Homo sapiens: one gene and its partner. The protein of the gene in region 1 interacts with the protein of each later gene in a biochemical or structural test. Each region holds a gene or a part of one and is shown on either strand. Other genes may lie near its edges.

The links.
Region 2: of the proteins of EML4 (region 1) and NEK7, one has a biochemical effect on the other in vitro, tested with the Homo sapiens proteins (one study listed by BioGRID).

The regions. Positions count from the first base shown.
Region 1 is NC_000002.12:42,259,014-42,264,080, reverse strand, and holds part of EML4 (echinoderm microtubule-associated protein-like 4), read right to left. Parts: intron 2,961-5,067; coding exon 2,787-2,960; intron 904-2,786; coding exon 775-903; intron 1-774. UniProt on the Homo sapiens protein: Essential for the formation and stability of microtubules (MTs). Required for the organization of the mitotic spindle and for the proper attachment of kinetochores to MTs. Promotes the recruitment of NUDC to the mitotic spindle for mitotic progression.
Region 2 is NC_000001.11:198,257,378-198,262,444, forward strand, and holds part of NEK7 (serine/threonine-protein kinase Nek7), read left to right. Parts: intron 1-5,067. UniProt on the Homo sapiens protein: Protein kinase which plays an important role in mitotic cell cycle progression. Required for microtubule nucleation activity of the centrosome, robust mitotic spindle formation and cytokinesis.

The sequences.
Region 1 (5,067 bases):
CTTAAAAGGTAGATACAACTTTTTGTAGAAGACTTGAAAGAAAACATACACCAGGCTGGCACGGTGGCTCACGCCTGTAATCCCAGCACTTTGGCAGGCCAAGGCAGGTGGATCACGAGGTCAAGAGATCGAGATCATCCTGGCTAACGTGGTGAAAACACCATCTCTACCAAAAATACAAAAATTAGCTGGGCGTGGTGGTGCACACCTCTAGTCCCAGCTACTCGGGAGGCTAAGGCAGGACAATCGCTTGCACCTGGGAGGCGGAGGTTGCAGTGAGCCAAGATTGTGCCACTGCACTCCAGCCTGGCAACAGAGTGAGACTCCATAAGAGAAGTATAAATTATAATACAGAGTTTTTAAAAAGATTCAAACCAAGGCCAGGCGTGGTGGCTCACGCCTGGAATCCCAGCACTTTGGGAGGCGGAGGCAGGCAGATCATGAGGTCAAGAGATCGAGACCATCCTGGCCAACATGGTGAAACCCCGTCTCTACTAAAAATACAAAAATTAGCTGGGCATGGTGGCACGTGCCTATAGTCCCAGCTACTTGGGAGGCCGAGGCAGGAGAATTGCTTGAACCTGGGAGGCAGAGGCTGCAGTGAGCCAAGATGGTGCCACTGCACTCCAGCCTGGCGACAGAGCAAGACTCTGTCACAAAAAAAAAAAAAAAAAAAAAAAAAGATTCAAACCAGACATACATAACTGTACATGCAAACATAATAGCCAAATAATTATTACTTTTCAGATATAATGAAGAAAGTGCAATACTTACTTGTCTGCAGTTTTGGTAACTTTTGGTATTAATTTGGGTGTTGAAGGTATTTTCGACAATTTATTACGGCTATCATCTGAATTTTCCCAAGAATTATGTGACTTTTCAGCTGGTGATGGTCGTTTTATGCTAGAAGGAACATTAATTTCTTAGAGAAAAATTCTGAGTATCAAAGACATGTAACTGACAATTTAAACAGAACACAAAAGCAGCAATTAACATTTCCTTAAAGCTAATCCAGAAAAGAGAAGGATTAGTTGAAAGACTGCCTGGATGAGTGAAGGAGTTAAACAAGGCAATTCCCAAATCTGTATTATAATTTTCTGTATCACTCAGAAGATTCACTAGAACAAATATTACCTGATTTTTTTTAAAAAACACTTTTGTTAACAGAAAAAAATTATTTCCTTACATCTGAGTAATGTTTCTTATAATTTGTAGTTACAAAAAAACCTGTATTTTTTCATAGCCATTGAATTTTATAAGGCTGCCATTTTCATTTTTTGTGCAATTATGTCCTCAGGTAATTACATTACATATGGTACAAATGACAATTTCTAAATATAACAAGGTATAAACTCTTGTTTATATCTTTAGGGACAATTTTACCAATGATCAGAAATAAACAAGACTTTATATAAGAATGTGGTTATTGGCAATCCTGATTCCCTATACTTATAAGTGAAATTTGTTTCTTTACAAATGATTTTTTCATTGCATTGCTAACTATCCTCAAACTCATCCAGTCTCCAATACTTCTTGCAACAGTATATCCAAAGAGCAATTTAGGAGGGCAAGCACATTTCCAGGAGACCTCAAGAAGCTGAAAAAAAGATGCTGGGACAAAGAAGATATCAAGTGAAATCAGAACCTTAAAGAGACTGATTATAAAAAGCCACCTTAAACCACACACAATCCAAAGTTATGTAACGTTAATAAGCTATATCCAAGAAAAACTCCACAGGAGACCAGGCAGATAAACTACAAACCATTTAGATTGGGTAAGAATCTGCATGAGACACACAGACAAAGCATTTTGTAAGTGGTAAACATGCATCGATCAAGTGAAGGGTATTTTGGTTTTCCCAATTTCCATTAGCGATTTGAGGCAAAATATTAAATTGATCAAATAAAAATTTAAATCTTTTAGGAATGGTTGTCATTTATTTTATTAAAATTCTAGCCAGTTCTGGAAATGGTTTAATAGTTTCCTAAGATTTCCAAGCAGAAGTACGATGATAAAATATGACTATTCCTAATCACAAGGCTTGAATAAGCATTTCTAAACAGGCAAATTTAATTAGATTGGTCTCAATATTTGATTAGGAGGCAGCTGTAGCACTGTACTCCCAGCATGCAGGTTTAGATTCTCAATTTAGGCTCACACACATTGTTAGAATATTTCTCCCTTTTCCCCTTCTCATAACTTTAAAATATTAATTATTACGGACACAGAAGCCCTCAAGCAAGCCTTTAGCATAGAAAAGACCAGGTGAAATGGATTCATTTCTCTACTCAAGCAAGAACTTATCCTCCCAAGACCCAAAACTGAAACTGAGATGCAGCCACAGTGAAGAGCCACTTGAGATGGGCCCTTGCAGGTTGAAGGTTGTAATGATGCCAAAATACAGTGAGGACAATTACATATGGCCATTTTCTATCCATGGCTATAAATTTATGCATAGTTACATACATATTTTAAAAGTATTCAAAAATGTGGTTAAGAAAATATTGTTTGGTTTTCGACTAGGTTATTCCTGCCTTCTTTTCATCAGATTGTTTATAACTTAGTTTTTTTTTTTTTTTTTTCCAGTTTTAACTGAGAAATTGTGACCTTAATTCTTTATTCCCCAATGGGCTATAAAGCATAAATTATAAGCAATGAAGAAGGGAAAAATAAAGCCACCAGCTTTTTCTCTCAGAATCCTTGGATAGCTAACTTTTTCCCAAGTCACAGAATTTAGGTATCATTACAACCATTCCCTAGCTCTGTACTTGGGGACAGTTAAAACCTTTTGGTGGGAGTAGCATTCTTGCTTTCTGGAGTTTGTCTGTGTATTTGGAGAGGTTGTGAAGAGGGCTGGGGAGAAGGTGATGCTCGAATTTGTGGACTTTGATCATTAGAATGAGATTCCTCTTTTTTTTCTCTCTGTCCTTGTGGTTTTTCTTTCTTTTTTTCTGTACCACTGTAAAATAAAGTATAACATGGAACAATACACATTTAAACAAATGAAAAAAAATCAAACGATAGAAAAGTGATTATTATATAATTCAAAACCCTAAGTCATACAGCTAATACAATTTGCACTGTTTTCATTCAATAAGGACAATATTTCTTTGAAAATTCCAGAAGCTATTAACATCTTCAGTAAAGAATTTATAAAAATTCTAAGGCGATACACCCCATGAAGATTGCCCCTTTAGACAGAAATGGTCTCTAATAAACTTTGCCATCTTGGCAGATTTTGGGGGACAAATGAAGGTCTCTTAACTGACCTCAAGTTACCCAAATCAGAGGACTATCTGTGTAAAGCATACCGACTGATGCCAAAAGAACACTAAATATTCATGTTTAATAGGTTATTCTCCAATTCCTGTTTTTTTTCTGTATACTTCTACTCCACTCAATTGAGTTTTAAACTTACCAAGAGTTTAAGTTTTCCCCAAGTCTGTTTATGCCAGTTGTTATTTTAATTATGTAAGTTAATTAAATACAAAGAGAATTGCAATTTCTATGAAAACTAAGTTTAATGTTCTAGAAAGACTACAAAAAAAATGAGTTATCAAAAAAATTGCTGTTAAATTTAGTGTGAGTGACACAATTTAAAAAATCACAGAGGCGGCTGGGCGCACTGGCTCACGCCTGTAATCCAAGCACTTTGGGAGGGCGAGGCAAGTATCACCTGAGGTCAGGAATTCAAGACCAGCCCAGGCAACATGGTGAAACCCCGTTTCTACTAAAAATACAAAAATTAGCTTGGCGCAGTGGCATGTGCCTGTAATCCCAGCTACTCGGGAGGCTGAGGCAGGAGAATCACTTGAGCCAGGGAGGCGGAGTTTGCAGTGAGCGGAGATTGCACCATTGCACTCCAGCCTGGATGACAGTGCGAGACTCCATCTCAAAAAACAAACAAATCACAGAGCCCGGGTGTGGTGGCTCACACCTGTAATCCCAGTACTTTGCGAGGCCAAGGCAGGAGGATTACTTGAGCCCAGGAGTTCAAGACCAGCCTGGGCAACAAAGTGAGACTCTGTCTCTTTAAAAAAAAAAAAAATTGGCCAGGCACAGTGGCTCACGCCTGTAATCCCAGCACTCTGGGAGGCCGAGGTGGGTGGATCACGAGGTTAGGAGATCAAGACCATCCTGCCTAACATGGTGAAATCCCGTCTCTACTAACAAATACAAAAAATTAGCTGGGTGTGGTGGTGGGCGCCTGTAGCCCCAGCTACTTGGGAGGTTGAGGCAGGAGAATGGTGTGAACCCAGGAGGCGGAGCTTGCAGTGAGCCGAGATTGCGCCACTGCACTCCAGCCTGGGTGACAGAGCGAGACGCCGTCTCAAAAAAAAAAAAAAAAAAAAAAAAAGAAAGAAAGAAACAAAATCATAGAAAGAGAGATGCGTTCTAACATACTCTTCTGCCAGAGTTTTAAATTTCTTACTCCTTTCATTTCTGAGAAATGAAACTAAAAATTTTAGAAAGTTATTTATGGATATATTTTATGAAAGACAGTCAACAAGGAATTTGATCAGAGATATATACTTAGAGGGTAGGTTTGGTCTTTCATTTAAAAAGTGATGAATGAATACAGGTGAATGTATCTTATGTTAAAATATTTCAGATATTTAAGTATAAATTCTTTTGATTATGTACTTTGACTCTTGGTTAATAAACCACCTGCTATTCCTAACCAGACTGGATAAGCATACTTATACTGAAAACACTCTTGACAATATTATAAAGCTGATGGAATCAAGACTTGAATTCCAGTGATGAAAAGGTAGGAAACTACTAAATGCCTATTTCTTTTCTCTGCCGCCCCCCTCCCCCTGTTTTTTTTTTCAGATGAAGTCTTGCTCTGTCATCTAGGCTGGAGTGCAGTGGTATGATCTTGGCTCACTGCAACCTCCATCTCCAAGGTTCAAGCAATTCTCCCACCTCAGCTTCCCCAGCAGCTGAGATTACAGGCGCCCGCCACCACACCCAGCTAATTTTTACATTTTTAGCAGAGATGGGGTTACACCATGTTGGCCAGACTGGTCTCAAACTCCTGACCTCAGCTGATTCGCCTGCCT
Region 2 (5,067 bases), on another chromosome or scaffold:
CATCTTAAGTTTAGATTCTGCATGTTTGCATATAATTAGAAATTAGGATTATATATGATCAGAAATTTGTGGACAATGATAGCACTTCCATAATACATAGGCTGATTTTAATATATTCGTAACCTCTGTGGCTCTGCCTTCAATCTCTTTTTCAGTGTTCATTGTGATTAATAAATTTATCTTGCAGCTTTTATGAACTTCATTTAATCTCTATAGACTTCCTTTCAGATTTCCAATTGTTATTTGAATAAATGAAAACTAAGCATTTGTAAGAATAATTCATAAATGACATTTAAAAGATACAGAACAATTTGGTAAATTAATGTTAGTTTTTACTTGTCAAGGTGGAATAGGCTTTTATCTTTAAAATTAAAGCTTTTTAATTTTAATTACTTGTACTTGCAATCTTAAGCATTTCTAAGCAGATAAGAAACAGAAAATTTCCAGTTTTATGGATTGTTTAACATTTTGGGGTTAAACTACTATATGGCAGACACTGTACTTGACAATAGGGACACAATAGTGGGACACAATAATTAAATCCAACATTTTTGTGTGGAAAATAGACAATAAATCAAATAATTATAGCAAAAAATAAATCAAATAATTATAGCCAAAAAGGAAATGACCATGCTGTGGTATTAGAGACAAACTAGAGGAGGAGAGCATTTTAGATAGAGTGTGCAGCAAAGGCCTCTCCGAGGATGTGAAATTTAAGCGTAGGTGGAGGATAAGGAGTCAGTCATCTGAAGGGTAGTGACAGGAAGGTTCCAGCTGTAGAGCCGGGCACGGTGACTCAACGCCTGTAATCCCAGCATTTTGGGAGGCTGAGGCGGGCAGATGACGAAGTCAAGAGATCAAGACCATCCTGGCCAACATGGTGAAACCCTGTCTCTACTAAAAATACAAAAATTAGCTGGGTGTGGTGGCACACGCCTGTAGTCCCAGCTACCTGGGAGGCTGAGGCAGGAGAATCGCTTGAACCCGGGAGGTGGAGGTTACAGTGAGCCAAGATCACGCCACTGCACTCCAGCCTGGAGACAAAGCAAGACTCTCTCAAAAAAGAAAAACAACAACAACAAAAACTTGCTTAGTATATATTTTTAAGTACTTTGTTTTCTGCATTTTAAATGGTCTTTCTTCTAACAATTTGACATATGCCTTTTTAAGGGGATATTTCTGTTAAGTTACTAGAAGGATTTCATTTCCTTTTAAAGAAATCTAGTGTTAACCTTTTCAGTTTCATTAGCTATGAGTAATTTTGGCAAAATTTTAAGATGACAAAAGAAAACCTTTAAAATGATTCAGAGAATACCAAGAATTTATCAGTCATTACTTGCCTAACCACAGCTCATCCCTTGCTCTTACCAAGTATAAAATGAGTTTAAAAACCTGAAGAAACTTTGGTGGAGCTGAATGAAAATGATGCCTCCTAAAGACTTGTTTGTACATATTATATGCAAGATATTCTTACAAAGTCCATATTTTCACCCAAGACATACTGCTTTTTCTTGCTCATGAAATCATCGGACAGCTTTGAATCTGTGTTTGGGAATGATGTAATCTAAATATTCATTATTATTTATTTTTGTCTTGACTTGTTGGCTGAGAGAAAAAGAAAGATAAGATACTTCTGAATTTCCAGTTAAATGTATTTGTAAATGTATTTTGCTCAGAATTTAGTTTTGCTTTAGATGTGCCATCAATGCTTATTTCTCCCTGTGTTTGAGGAGTGACTTTTGATATTATTGAAAATTCAGTTAAAAATAAAAGTCAATTTGTAATTCTAAATTAATTTTTATAACTTGAATTAAAGATTTTCTATGTAGCATGTTTCTATCTTGATATGTTGTATCTTGTTATGGTTTCCTAAAACTCTTATACATCTATTATTCATTCTTATCTCACTCACCCTCTTTTGTTTTTAAAAATGTTGTTCCACATCATAGAGACATTGATTACTGAGAGATTAAATACATATATGTCTCCAAGTTTGTGATTTTCTTCATTTTAATTACTGGTACTATATGGGCATTATTCTTTCTCTGCCTCCTAAAACAAACAAACAAAAATACCAGGAATTACATCAAGATCTGATATACTTACAATTTTGTGCTTTCCAGTATATCTTTGATTTATCTCAAATTCCTTGTAAATAGCATTTCCTGAGAATGGCATCAGCATTTATGATGTGTCAAGAATCAGTTATTTCTCATGCCATTTTGATTTAAAGTGCAAGTAGTCTGTGTGTGTGTGTTTCATACCTATAACTAATATCAAGTTCAAATTTTTCTGTTTCCATTAGTGTTTGTTTTATTGTTTAACATGTTGATATAATAATCCCTTTGGGGGAATGAATGGCATTTCTATGTGAAATTGCTAAATGTAAAGCTTATTCCTTCAGTTCAAGAACTTTCGATTTTACACACACACTCACACACACACACACATATATATTTTCCTGAAGGGCATTACGCATTCCTGCTTATATAAATCAGTTATTGAGAGCCCTTCCAGCCAGCCATGCTCACCCCCATTAAGGTTCTTACATCACTTTGAACAAGTAGCACTTACAAGTTGCGTGTTAATTTTCTGTGTTGCAGTCTGCATTCTGCATCTGACACTGTGCATCTTAAAGGACTGCAAGATGGTTTTCTTATTTGTATCTGTAATAAAATCTGATAGTAAGATGGCATTCAGCATGGATTTTTATATGTAGAAAGGGTGGGCATTAACAGTTTAAGCTTGTCTGTACTCAGGATCAGGTTATTCATATTAATAATTTGTGTGTAGAGTTAAAACTATGATGCTCTTGGAGAAAATTTCTGCAAGGTTTTTCCTTCCTTCCATAAATAGTGTCATATGGTTTGTTCTTTAATACTGGTAATTTTTTTAACCCCTGCTATTGGTGTCCATTTATATCTAGCTCATTTTGTCAAAGCTTAATGTATACAACAGCTTAATGTTAGCTAAAACATATCTTACTAGATAGTTTATGTGAACTTTGTGATAGTGATTTGCCACTCATAGTCCTTTCCTTTTTTTTTTTTAACCCCTTTTCCTTTCCTTGCTGTTGTTTCATCGTGTTGCATTCTGTTCCATTCTGAAATCATGGTAGTTAACATGAGTTTACTGTGGCTGACATGGTTAGAATTACTGCTAATGGAAAAAAGAGAAGTTAACTCTCTTTAATATATGTACCGGCATACATATTTCTTCTTCTGTTATTTGATTAAGTGGGAGAAACTTTGATGTAATCTAGTCTGTCTCTTTTTGTAAACCATCAAGTAAGGTAAGGCTTTATATTTTTTCAAATCTTAAACTGCAGTGCTCAATATTTTACATTAAAAGTTGCAGAACGTAAATTTGATACTTGAAGTTTTCATTAGAAGTAGTAGAACCAAAATAATGTTAGTGAAAAAGCATATATATCATTTTATATACTGCTATTTTCACTATGCAAAAAGCACATGCGTTTGTACAAGAAATAGAAGGGACTGAGCCAAAGCTAAAATTCTTTAAGGCAGTGAGTTTATGGATTTTATTTTTGCTTTATAATCTTATCTAATATCTTCATATGGTTTTTTAAATTAAGACAAATTAGAACTTTGTGTATCTTTGGATATTAAGAATGATATCTAGAAAAAGTTGCCTCTTATAAGCTGTAATTTTACACCCTTATTCCATATTTACTTTTATGCAGTAGATATCTTTTGTTTCTGACTGGCAGAATCCTATAATTCTTTCAAGGTTCACCTCTAATGGTACCCGCCACCCTACATGGAAGGAATTTCTTCCTTAGGTTTCTAATACTACACTTTGTACACACATATATTTTAATACTTATTAGCTAGTTGTGTATGCATTAGACTTTGTGACAGCCTGGCTCATTGAGAAAACACTGACTATGGAGCTAGAACAACCTGGCTTCAAGTCCTGATTCTGTCCTTTACTAGTTTTATGATCATAAGCATATTATTTAATCTTTTTGAGCCTCAATCCTCATCTTGTTATTGTGGCCAATACTACCTGTCTTATAAGATTGCAATGAAGTTTAAAGCATCATGTGTAAAGAGGCCAGCCCTCTCTGGTAGTGTCTAATAACTACTTCTTTAATTAAAAAGACTTGGATTCTGCCACTCCTTTGACATTGTACCTTCTTTTCCTGGAATGTTAGCTGGCTGAATCAGGAAGACTTGATCAAGCTGATTACTAAAAATGTCATTAATTTTTTTATTTGTTATGTAACTAGGGTTTTAATCAGCTTGCAGTACTGACTTAGATTTTTTTTGCAGTCTCTAAGATATTGCTTTTTTAAATGTTATTTTCCACACACTTAGAACCTTGAGAGATTTGTGTTTTCAGAGACACATGAAATATCTTTTTGATTGTATTTTTTATTTTTATGTTTTTAACAGTAGGTTAATATTTTTCAACCTTTTCTTCATTATCCTCCCCCCAAGCTGCCTGTTTAGACATTTCTTCCTAATTACCTCTACCCATGAAATTTTAATTCCACAAATACAGTATATCTGTTTATGTGTAGTACTGTATGTGTATCTATACTTTATACTTAATAGAGTAAAATTTTGTTACCCTTCTCCACAAAGAACCAATTTTCACCCCCTTGGAATGATATCACCCTTGTCAAGAATGCATGCATCAGACCTTTTAGACATGATTTGATGGAACAGATTAATGGTTCAGTGCTTGGGTTCTAGATGGATAACTCTGAGAATGAATTCTGCTTGCTCTGTTGATTAGCTGTGTGACCTTTTGTCATTCTCCTTAGCTTTCTAAAGCTTCTCTTCTTCATCTGTAAAATGGGAATACTACTATTATCATCCTCATAAGGTTGTGCAGTACATTTAGCATATATTAATTGCTCAACATATATTAGCTATTACTTTATCATCTTAATAATCACAACTTTAATTTTGTTCATTGGAACTTAAGACCTGAGTGTTAAGGGGTATCTACCTGTTCTCTTTATCCATTTTTTAAATACTGACTGCTGAAAATGTAAGCAATGTTGGTAACATAAGATACCTACAGAACTCCTTAATA